2 separate regions of the Homo sapiens genome follow, and region 1 is linked to region 2. The links come from fine-mapping of genetic effects on gene expression. Tissue or cell type: thyroid. Region 2 holds a variant in brackets; the other region holds the start of a gene. All regions are shown on one strand. Distances are from middle to middle.

What was found. PIP is the estimated chance that this variant, and not a neighbour inherited with it, causes the effect.
Region 1: it holds the start of FHAD1, and the variant in region 2 is fine-mapped to the expression of FHAD1 in thyroid (GTEx, PIP above 0.99).

What each region holds. Positions count from the first base shown.
Region 1 is chr1:15,244,286-15,250,207 of GRCh38, forward strand. FHAD1 (forkhead associated phosphopeptide binding domain 1) reads left to right here and starts at 2,938. Exons shown (of 34, transcript NM_001391957.1): 1 at 2,938-3,110. RefSeq lists silencers at 2,773-2,946, 2,964-3,203.
Region 2 is chr1:15,342,167-15,348,088 of GRCh38, forward strand. It overlaps FHAD1 (forkhead associated phosphopeptide binding domain 1), which reads left to right. Exons shown (of 34, transcript NM_001391957.1): 17 at 2,917-3,024; 18 at 3,250-3,357. FHAD1-AS1 (FHAD1 antisense RNA 1) reads right to left here and starts at 1,717. Exons shown (of 2, transcript NR_148919.1): 1 at 1,610-1,717. RefSeq lists an enhancer at 3,627-3,826. The variant G/A (reference allele first, on the strand shown) is at 2,821.

The sequences.
Region 1 (5,922 bases), 98 kb before region 2:
TCGGCTCCACTGATTCTGAGTGTCAGCTTTGCTCTCAGTTTAGGATTTTTTGTTTTTCATTGAGATATCAGCTAACAGCAACAGATGATCTCTCAAAGCCTGGTGAGGGGCATGGGCTGTTCCAGCTCATGGCCAGCCTGGGTTTCACTGGGGTCTGTCTGATAGCAAGTTTGTGTCCTGGGTTCATGTTAATGACAAGAGTTTGACCAAAGACAAGCATGGAGGGGTGGTGGTAGGGATGGAGGTGGTGTTCAGGCCTGGGCAGGGGACTAGAGAAGCCGACATCCTGGGGCGAGGACAGGTCAGCCCAGCAGTCCTCAGAGGACAGGAGGCCGGGCTTCAGAAGGGTGGCAGGGGCTTCCCCCTGCATATTTATTCATTCAGACATTGTTCTAGGGACTGGTGGCACAGCAGCAAACAAAACATGAAAAAAGAAATTCCTGCTTTCATGGAGTTTAGATTCTACCAGGGGTCAGGGAGGGAGACACAATAAATAACATAAATAAATAAAGAAATAGTATGTGAGTTGATGATAAGTGATGTATTAGTCCATTTGTGTTGCTATCAAGTAATACCTGAGGCTGTGTCATTTATCCAGAAAAGAGGTTTATTTGGCTCACAGTTCTGCAGGTTGTACAAGAAGCATGGTGCCAGCATCTGCCTCTGGTGAGGGTCTCAGGCTGCTTCCACTCCTGGCAGAAAGTAGCGCCTGCATGTGCAGAGATCACATGATGAGAGAGGAAGTGAGAGTGAGCGAGGGGGAGGTGCCAGGCTCTTTCTAACAATCAGCTCTTTAGGAAACTGATAGAGTGAGAACTCATGCACCCTACAGGAACAGCACCAAGCCATCCATGAGGGATTCGCCCGCATGATCCAAGCACCTCCCGCCAGGCCCCACCTCCAACACTGAGGAGCAAATTTCAACATGAGATTTGGAGGGGTCAAATATTCTAACTATAGCAAGTGGCAAAAAGAAGGGAAGAGGGATAGAGTGTTGAGGTTTTTATTTTGTTTGGATGTGCTTTTGTTGTTCTTATTTTTATTTGCTTTTGTTGTTCTTATTTTTATTTGCTTTTGCTGTTCTTATTGTTTTTATTTGCTCTTTTTTGTTGTTTATTAGATTTCATGGTGGTTGTTTCATTGTTTCAAAAAACCAATTTTAGAAAAGATGATATGTGAGTAAAAAGCTAAAGTAAAGAAGGCAAAGGAGACTCTTGAGGGGAAGTGCATTCCAGGCAGAGGAATGGGCAAGAGCAAAGGCTCTGAGGCAGAAACGTGTGGGAAGCTGAGCTTGACCCTCTCTGTTCCTGTGAAGCCATCACTTGGGTCCCAGCCCTTGTGGTCCCTCCTAACATTTTACGCCTAGAATCTTTCTGGTTGTAGGAAACTGATCCAGGCAGAACCTTCCAGACTGAGGGCCTGGAAGAGATTTGTAGGGACAGGCTCCGGGAGAGGTCTCTGCAGTTCAGCTGCATAAATCAGGGTTTTGTCAAGCTTGTTGCAAATGCACATTCCTGGATTATGTCCCAGGCCTGCTAAATCAGAATCTCTGGGGTCTGTGCCCAGAAGTCCGCATTTCTAAAAGCCTCCAGGCACGTTTGAGCATCTTCACTGTATATTCCACCACAAATCGATGTCCATGATTTCTCTCTCAGATCCTCTTCCTATTGACTAGGTGTATTAGTCTGTTCTCACACTGCTATAAAGTAATTCCTTGAGACTGAATAATTTACAAAGAAAAGAAGTTTAATTGACTCACAGTTCTGCACTGCTAGGGAGGCCTCAGGAAACTTACAGTTATGGCGGAAGGCCAAGGGGAAGCAAGGAAGCTAGCATGTTGTAACATGGTGTAGCAGGAGAGAGAGAGAGCAAAGGGGGAAGTGCCACACTTTTAAACCATCAGATCTCATGAGAACTCACTCGCTATCATGAGAAAAGCAAGCGGGAAGTCTGCCCCCATGATTCAATCACCTCCCACCAGGCCCCTCTTCCAACACGTGGGGAGTGCAATTCGAGATGAAATTTGGGTGGGGACACACAGCCAAACCGTATCACTAGGGTAGAATGTGCCATAGTTCATCTCTCTTAGAAAAACGTTTAGAGTTTTTCTTGAGGTGTCTGGTCAGCCATTTCCTGCCAGTGAAAGGAATCACTCTCCAGGTAGAGTCAGCAGGAGATAGGATTTCCTGCTGGAGATAGTGGCGGGAGATAGGATTTGCACATCTGCTCAACACACTCCATCCCGCGAGTCCTGTGCCGGCTGACAAGCGGTTTCTTAAGGACAGTAACTGTTCCAGGTGTATTCTGGGATCAGCGTGTGACACTCATAGGACTCAAAAGATGTTTGCAGAGATAGAGAAAGGGCAAAAGAATGAATAAATGTCACTCTTAACAGGGAGGAGCAGAGGCAGCAGGATTGTGAGTTTGGAAATATTTTTTCCCCAGCACATGGAAGAAATCCTCATTCTTTCAAAATTTTTCATTCCACCCCATCCCTTTCCCAATCCCCACCCCACTCCCAGAGATCCCCTCTTCTTACTCTTTCTATTTTCTGGCCTGTAACGGAAAGGACTAGAGATTTGGGTAGGGCAGGGGGCATACTAACCTCCAAGGGTCTCATGAGTTCAGCTCCATCAATCTCCTACCTCTCCCTATCGCCCCCGACCCTCCCTCAACGCATCCAGCTTACAGTGAGGGGTAATGGAAAGGATTCTTGAATCAAATCTCCTCCCTGCTCCTTCCTCGCTGTAAAACCTTGGGCCATTTCTGTGACCTCTGAGCCTCCGCTTTCCTATCTGTGAAATGGGGCAGGCTCGTGGGGCCTGGAGCATTCAGCAGGCGGTAACCCAGTGGGCGTTCCCTGCACGGTGCCACGCCCCCTCTGCCGCGCAGGCCACGCCCTCATCTATTAGGCTGGACCCCGCGGCGCCTGGCGGCGTTGCCATGGCAACGCGCGTACACAGGCCGGCCGGGCGGGCGGGGTGCCGGGTGCGAGCTGGAGACTCCGCGGGAGCGCGGCCGGGAGGCTTCGCCCCGGAGCTGGCCCGACGCCTCCCGAGCTGGCAGGGCTCTCGGCGGAGGTCGGAGCGTGGGCTTCCTCCTCCCGCCAGGTGAGTGCGGCGCGGGAAGGGGTGGCGGGCCGAGACCGGGGACCGGAAGGGGCGGCCCAGCGAGGACTAGCCCTGGCAGGAGGAGGGGTGGCTCCCCGGCCCCATCCTCCTGGATCCAGGCTCCGGTCCCCAGGAGCACCCCAGTAGCTACCCCAACACCAGCCCCTCCTTTCCAGATGCAGGCCCCACCCCGCCCGCGGAGGAAGCCCCCGGGAGCCTTAGACCCTCCTTGGCACCAGCCATGCCACTCTGGGAAGTCCTGGGGGTTACAGCTGGGATTAGGAGGGGCATCCCTGCTGCCCCTGACTTACGAACGACACCCACCCGGCGGTCAGAGAGACTCCCCCCTTGCCTAACCTCTCCCTTCCCAAATACAACACTGAGGAATTTCTAGGGCTCCCAGGCCACTTAAGATCTGGTAACCCCTCAACAGAAATTTTGCTTCTCTATCTCACTTGTGACCTATAAGCAGGGAGTGCAGATGCCTGAAGCTCTTTTGCTCTTTTGCATGGTCGGTGCCCTGTGTCTTAGAACTAATTTACAGAGTTTAACGCATCTAATCACTTTCTACAGTGTTTTCAGGTAGGAAAGTGACTGCACAGGGCAAGATTAAAGTGGGGAAATAGGGCCCAACCCATTCAGCTAAAGAAATAGACTTTTTTTTTTTTTTCCAGAATGTCATCTAGGATAAATACTGAAGGGGAAAATGAAAGGTAGTTACTGTCAGAGGTTCTTAGGCTACCCTGACTTACTTTTAAGCATTGTTTTGTACTTTCATTCATTCATGATTTACTGAGCACCACTATGTGTCAGGCATGGCAGCGCTGGGGGCCAGAGGGGAGTAATGAACAGACTGTGAGGAAATGCAAAGGGTCTGAGATTTTTACACTACTTGCAAGCTAAGTTAGCCTGCCACTGCTTAATGATGCTAGCAGAAGACCAGAGACTCCAGGACCAGAGACAAAGGATGTTATTACTCACAGCACAGCAGGCACTGTGAGCTCATGTTTGCGTTGGTTCCCCTTGCCCTGCAAGTACCCCGGGGTGATGCAGGACAGCTCAGGTGGATGCTGTGCACACTGCGAGTCTGTTTCCCAGCTAAGGAACCCCAAGCTCAGGAAACTCCAGTCTTTTAAAAGGGGCTGCTAGCCAGTGCCCAACCTTTGCCCTGGAAGGAGATGACCTTTTTTTTTTTTTTTTAATTGAGACAGAGTCTTGCTCTGTCTCCCAAGCTAGATAGAGTGCAGTGGCACAATCTCAGCTCACTGCAACCTCTGCTGCACGGTTTCAAGTGATTCTCCTGCCTCAGACTTCCGATTAGCTGGGACTACAGGTGCAAGCCACCATGCCCGGCTAATTTTTTTGTGTTTTTAGTAGAGACAGGGTTTCGCCATGTTGGCCAGGCTGGTCTCAAACTCCTGACCTCAGGTGATCCGTCCACCTGGGCCTCCCAAAGTGCTAGGATTACAGGCATGAGCCACCGTGCCCAGCCAGAGATGACATTTTTATCATAAATCTGCACTCTGCCCTGGATAGGGACACTATCCCTATCCTCTCAGGATATTTGCCCTACAGATGTCCTTGGAAGATTGTCTGGAACAAAATCTGTCAGTGTCTTTGCTCTGAAGATGGGTACAAACACAGGAAACCCATGGAGAATTGAGTTTAACAAAAACAACACAGTTTGGGCTCTCTTGGAACGTATCTCAGTGAAAGGGAAACAGTAAACAGCTAAGTAAAGAACAAGAAAATGACAGAGAATGATAAGCTCAAGGAAGGAGCCACAGCAGTGACACATGCTAGCTAGACAACAAAGTGACTGGTGACGCCTTTAGCTGGGGTGGTCAGGTAGCTACCGCAAGGCACCAGCTGTGGAAACATCGGGGGGAAGAGCTAAAAAAAAAAAAAAAGCCAGTCATTCAGATTTGGGGTTTTACTCTGGAGGCATTTCCTGTGGCTTTCCCACAAAAGAGACATTTCTCGAAAGTTGACTTTAGATTACTTTTACTTTAGTTTGGATGTGGTGCTTGATGATGTAGTCCTCTGCAATTGAAGATTAATAACTCAGGCAATTTGAGGGCAACAGGGCATGGTTCTTTTGGAAAAAGAAGTGTCTTTTTATCCCTATTAAAGACAGCAGACTTAAAAATAAAATTCTCATTATATGAAAGTATTAATATTTCTGAGGATTTCTCATAGGCTTCGGAATTTACAAACATAAACTATCTGGCTTGTTTTTATTTCTCTTACTCCCAAGGGTCTTTTCTTTTTTTGCAGAGGATAGAATTCTGGTGTTAAGGGCTATCTGTTATTTCATGTCCTAAGTGTCAACAAAACAGTGACAACCCCACTATCCCAAGTGACAACCTCTCCCTCCCCCCACTCAGTCACTCTCTCTGCTCCCCCATCCCATCCCCTCCCCACCCAGCAGTGATGGAGGTGTGAAAAGTTGAGCTGCCTGAGGATTATGTAGTGGTGACATGCAATGGCAATCTCCCTGCCCGAATGCTAGGGGACCTTAACCTCTCTGCATCTCAGTCTCCTTTTCTGTAAAGTAGGGACAATAATGACACCCACCTTGCAGGGTTTCTCTGAGGATGAAAAGAGTATATTCAAGGAAAAGTGCCTGGCACTTACTAAGGACTCCATAAATGATGATAGAGATGATGATGAAAAGCAGAGCCAGCCCCGAGAGTCCGTACCACCACAACTAGTTGATTTTTGTTTTTACCCATAGTCCAATAATTTGTCATTTCACTGACTTTTCAATTGAATGGAAAAGAGAGAGACTGTTGTTGTTCTTTGACAAGGA
Region 2 (5,922 bases):
GAGTCATCGCTGCAGGTCCTGGTTTGTAGCTGACAGACTGTTTCTAAATGTGCGCAAGATCAACTTCAGATGACAAATTTCAGTCTTTTGCTTTCTCTTTATACATATCGGGGGAAACAAATGGTCAAAATTGCTACTGACTTTTCTAGAAATCAAGCCAGTTAGAAGATAGCAGCATCTCTAAAACTCGAACGTGCCCATGAATTGTCTGGGGATCTGGTTAAGATGCAGATTCTGTCTCAGCAGGCCTGAGACGCTACATTTTCAACAAGCTCCCAGATGGTACTGACGCTACCAGTCTGCAGATCCACATTTTCTTAGGGCGAAGGCTTAGAGGAAGGTTTTCCCAAAGTTTCCTGATAAGAACCATCCAGATGCTTTGCTAAAAATGCAGATCTTGGTCTCCACCCTCCAGACCCATTAAATCAGAACATCTGGAGAGGGCCAGGAAACTGTATTATTTAATGAGCTGATTCTCATCACTGTCCTAGAGTTGGCCCTTTTTTTTCTTAAGATGGGGTCTTGCTCTGTTGCCCAGGCTGGAGTGCAATAGTGTGACCATAGCTCACCACAGCCTCGAACTCCCAGGCTGCAGTGGTCCTCCCACCTCAGCCTCCCAAGTAGCTGGGACCACAGGCATATGGCACTACACCCAGCTAATTATTATTTTTTTTTGTAGAGATGGGATCTTGCAATGTTGCCCAGGCTGGTCTTGAACTCCTGGGCTCAAGTGACCCTCCCACCTCAGTCTCTCAAGTAGCTGGGACCACAGGCACACACCACCACACCCAGCTAATATTTTTATTTTTTGTAGAAATGAGGTCTCTCTCTATGTTGCCCAGGCTGGTCTCAGACTCCTGGCATCAAGTGATCCTCCCACCTCAGCCTCCAAAAGTTCTGGGATTACAGGTATGAGCCACCATACCTGAGGGTTGGCCCTTTTTGATATTCAGGGACCCCTCCCATGAATTTCACTGTCTTTATGACTTTTGTCATTTAGGAGATTAAAAATTACTAATGCCTTGCACCTCTCCCCGCCGACTCTCCACATTCTGATCTTAGTGGGGTGAGGGTGTGGCCCCTGCTGTGGGATTTCTAAGCACTCCCGGGTGGTCGCAAAGTGCAGCCACGGTTGCGAGCCACTGTTGTGGGTGGGTGTGGAGCAGCGTGTGCATGCTGCCCCTCCTCACAGCCCCCTCAAGACAGCAGCCCCCCAGATCCACCGGACCCCAACTCTTCCCAGATATCTCCTCTCTTCCCCGGAAGAGTACTGGACCTGCCCCCTTCTCCATCTTTCCCCAGCTCCTTCTCTACCACACACACCTGCCCTCCAGACCTCTCCCTCTTTCATCTCCATCCTCACATGTGTGTCCAGTTACCCCAAAACATCAGTCTCCTCCTCCTTCTTCTCTTTGCCTCTTTCTCTGCTTTTCTGCATTTGCGAAATAAAAGATTAAAAAAGAAGAGCCATCTGACCAAATCATGTGCAATCCGCATAAAGGTAATATTAATGATAGCTATAAATCAAGATGGGCACATTTTGAAGGGCATTTAGATACGGAAAAAGCCAGCACCGTTCCATAGAGAAGAAAATAAAACCAGAAAGTACCTAGAAATCTTCAAAATCTTCGCAGAACTCTCCACCGACTTCCTTTTTTCTTCTCTGATTACCTTCTCCTTTTAACATCGGCATCCCAAATGCCTTATTTTCTCTTTTTAATTTTGGATGGACTTTTTCCCTTGTCAGGGTTTGGTATTTCAGCCCCACCATGTTAAACACTGCGTTGGGCGCCTGCCTAGTCTTCCTAGACAACCCTGGCGACACTGGCCTGGCAGAGTGTTTTAAGAGCTGGCGTCAGCCCCTCTTTTAAACCTGAAAACCTCGGTGCACCCTACCCTCCTTGCAGAGGGAGGAAGCAACATCAGGTCCCTGCCAGACAGACTGTGACACTCGAAGGTCGCCCTTCCTCTGATACTCGGATTGATGGACTTGACCCTGGGGACTCCTTGGAAAGTTACCTCTTGGACTTCAGTGCCAAGTGTCCTGACTAAATGAGCCTTCCTTAGACCTTCTGACTCCCATCACCTGCCCTTTCCGAAAATACATGTGTCCAGGGTCATTAATCTCATGAATCTTGACTTGTTTGAGGACTTTGTTTCAAAGGGAAAAAAAATTCTATGTTCCTTTATCAATCTAACATTCTTTTCTTATTGCCAGTTGTTGACAACAATCCCTTGGTTTGTGCACACACCAATGGGTTAGATCAGGGATTGGCCAAATTGTCCCATAAAGAGCCAGATAGTAAATATTTTCAGTTTTGCAGGTCATATGCTCTCTGCTCTTCTGCAAAAGCAGCCATAGACAATACACAGCAAGCACAGTGTTCCAATAAAACTTTATTTACAAAAACAGACCAGATTTGGTCTGTAAGCCATAGTTTGCTAACCTCTGGTTTAGAACACAGGCTTCAGAATCAAATGGGTCAGAGTTAGAATCCCTCCTCTTGTGATTTACTAGTAAACTGGGTGGATTCTTGAATGTAAGCCTGTTTCCTCCTCTGCAAGGTGGGAAGCATGGTTATCACTGTGCCAAGCATTTCGTGTTCATCGTCGCATCCACCCCTCACATCAACCCAACACAGGAAGACTATTACTGTCTCCGTTGTACAGGCAGGGAAACTGAGGCTCTGGTAGCTTCACTTCCCCAGTGCCTTACAGCTGGAAAGGATCAACCTGGGGCTCTACCCTGGGTCTCCTGACTCCAGAGCACATGCTCTGAGCTCCTAGGCTCTGCTGCCCACAGCCTCCCCAGGGGAGTGC[G/A]GTGAGGAGTGAAGAGGTAGCACATGCAGTGCCTGGCAGCGTCCAAATTCCTGCCATGGTAACCATGTCTGTTAAACAATGGTCATTGGTTTCCAGGCTTTGGAGGAGTACATTACTCAAGAGAGAAACAGAGCGAAAGAGACTTTAGAGGAAGAACGGAAGAGAATGCAAGAACTGGAGAGCCTCCTGGCCCAGCAGAAGAAGGTATGTGGCTCAGGGAGACAGAGTCAGCTCGAGCCCCACTGCAGCTAGGAAGGGTGGATCTGGGGCTCTGGTCTGGGCCCGCCGGCTCTGAGCTCCAGGGCTGTGCTGTCCACAGTCCCCTAGGGAGGTGTAGTCTGGAGGGAAGAGGAAACCTGTGCGGTGCCTGGCAGAGTCCAGTTTCCTCCCATGGTAACCATGTCTATTGAACAATGATCGTTGACTCAGGCTTTGGCGAAAAGCATTACCCAGGAGAAGAACAGAGTGAAGGAAGCATTAGAGGAAGAGCAGACAAGAGTCCAAGAGCTGGAGGAACGCTTGGCCCGCCAGAAGGAGGTACGCTCGGGGAGATAGAGTCGGCTGAGCCCCAGTCGGCTTGAGGGCCATGTGGAAGGAAGTTCAGAGCGGCGATGATGGGGGTGAGATCGTGGTGGAGCCTTCCTCGTGGAGTTTGCGTTTGGGTGGGCTCAGCTACTTTGGGAAGCGTGGGAGACTCAAGGAGGGAACCCTGGAGTTGTAGCCTTGACAACCAGTTGGGAAAAAATTGTAAACAGTGTAAAACACAGTCAGAGAGAGAGAGCGCTTGGGAGACAAGTAGGAATGGTGACATGGGCGTCTTCTGTGTTCCAAAGCACAGAAACGGGAGAATGACAGAGTCATGGGACCTCAGGGCTGCGTGGACCCTCCACCAGCATCCTAAAAGCCTCCAGCCTTCAGCACCACCACTAAGGAATGTTCTCCACCCCAGGACAGTCCGTCCCAGCATGGATGCCTCAGGCCGACAGAAAGTTTTCCCTTTAGGTTGAGTTGTGTCAAACTCTTACGCCCCGGAGGAGTATCAGTCCTCCGCCCTCCCCTGCGCTCCCACAAGATACATCTACTTCCTCTTCCACATGATGACTCAGATGTGTGAAAACAGGGGCGCCCGCACCCTGTGTCTGCTCCTCCCCGGGCCCAAGCGCCCTTGTTCCTCAGGTCCCTCACAGGACTAGAGCCTGGCCCTGGCTGCCTCCTGTGGCCTGTGCTGCTCTCCAGAAGTCACAGACTGGTAGCTCAGCGACTAAAAAGGGCCTGTGGAAGTTATATTTGGCCCCGGAATATTTTACTTTGAATTCATAAAATCTATTTAAAAGTTCAGATTTCCAGCCTCTCCCGAAAAGTCAGAAAATCTAGCCCTTGTTTCTACTTAGCAAAAATGGACTAGAAGCCTTACCGGGTAGCAGCAGTTTGCCAGAGTCCTCACCACTCCCCGTTGCATTAAACACAGCCCACGTCATTTTTGGTATCTGTCCGGGCTTCATAGGCATTGAGTTTGTCACCCATCACCCATTTTCTTCCTAAAGGGAGGTGGCCAGAACCACTGTTCTCCAGCCACGGTAGCCTAGGGGAGGACTCCTCCCTCCCGCATTGAAGATATTCTACTTCTGTTAATGCATCCAAACTAGCTTTTGGGAAAGCTCTGTCACATTTGTGGATTCATGTTTAGCTTGTGGTCACCCTCAGATCCCTGATCCTTTTTCACATCTGCTTTCATGAATTCCTCAATCCTGACACAGCACAGAGGAGTGCGGGCTTTGCAGCCAGATGAGACACAAGTTCAAATCCGAGCTGGGCTACTTCCTGGCTGCAGCAGACCTACCGCTGCCTCCCTTCTCGAAGGGGCGGCTGTGGGCTCAGATCTAGTGTATAATGGAGGGCCTGGCCTGCGGAATGATTGCCGAGTAAACGGCAGCTGTTACTACTGTCTCTGCTGCCACTTGTGCCTCTTCTTCTGTTTGGGCATTTGTTTTTCTTCAACACTGACTCCTTGAGTAAAATCCTTGCCCACCCACTGCTGCAGGAGAAACAAAAAGACCTCTGGGCAAAGCCTGTGCCATTTGATCTGACCCAGGACAGAGAGACGTTTACATGTCGGTTCTCCCTTGGCGTCTCTGGCACAGGTGTGCCCTGCAGCCCTCTCACAGAGCGTCACTGAGGTTTGCCCCCAAGTGATTTCTCCAGGGGTGGGGATGAGGAGGAGGGTCTCCAAAGAGTTACTTGAGTCAAATGCCCCAAGATGTCAACAGCAAAAGCCTGGGGAAGATTCTTGAATTTAGAGACTTTGAGGCCACGGGGCTCAGGAGATAAATTCAAGCTTCATTGCAGAGGATCTGTGGTTGGGTCACCCCGCGTCTGTTAAAATGTCAGCCTACTTCTGACAGAACTTCTCTGTGGCTTCCTATCGGGGGAATTTGAAAGAGCAGCCCCAGCCACAGGCTCCATTCAACTGCCAGTGGCTATTTGATTTTCTTTTTTTCTGTCTCCCAGGCTGGAGTGCAGCGGCATGATCTTGGTTCACTGCAACCTCTGCCTCCCGGGTTCAAACGATTCTCATGCCTCAGCCTCCCAAGTAGCTGGGACTACAGGTGCACCACCATGCCTGGCTAATTTTTTGTATTTCTAGTACAGACGGGGTTTCACCACGTTGGCCAGGCTGCTCTTGAACTCCTGGCCTCAAGTGATCTGCCTGCCTTGGCCTCCCAAAGTGCTGGGATTACAGGCGTGAGCCACCGCTCCCGGCCTGATTTTCTTTTCATTAGATCTTCCGCCACATCATCAGGGTTTTTAAGGTCAACAGAATCACTAGGTCATAATCTGGGTCTTGAGGTCATGTTCAAAGTTAATCCCCATTATCTGTTGTGAACTTGGAAGCACAGCAACTGAGCATGTAGGGCCTGTGTGTGAGCCAGGCAAGGCCTCTCTTACCAATAGTACCTGTCCCGACTGCAGAGAAGCCACCCAGAGGAAGGCCTGGCGAGTGTAGACGCAGAGTCAGACACAGCAGAGCCAACCCTAAGTCCCTAGGAAGTGCCTCAAAGTCTCTTTTACAATTCACAGGAAAATGTCCTACCCTGAAACCCA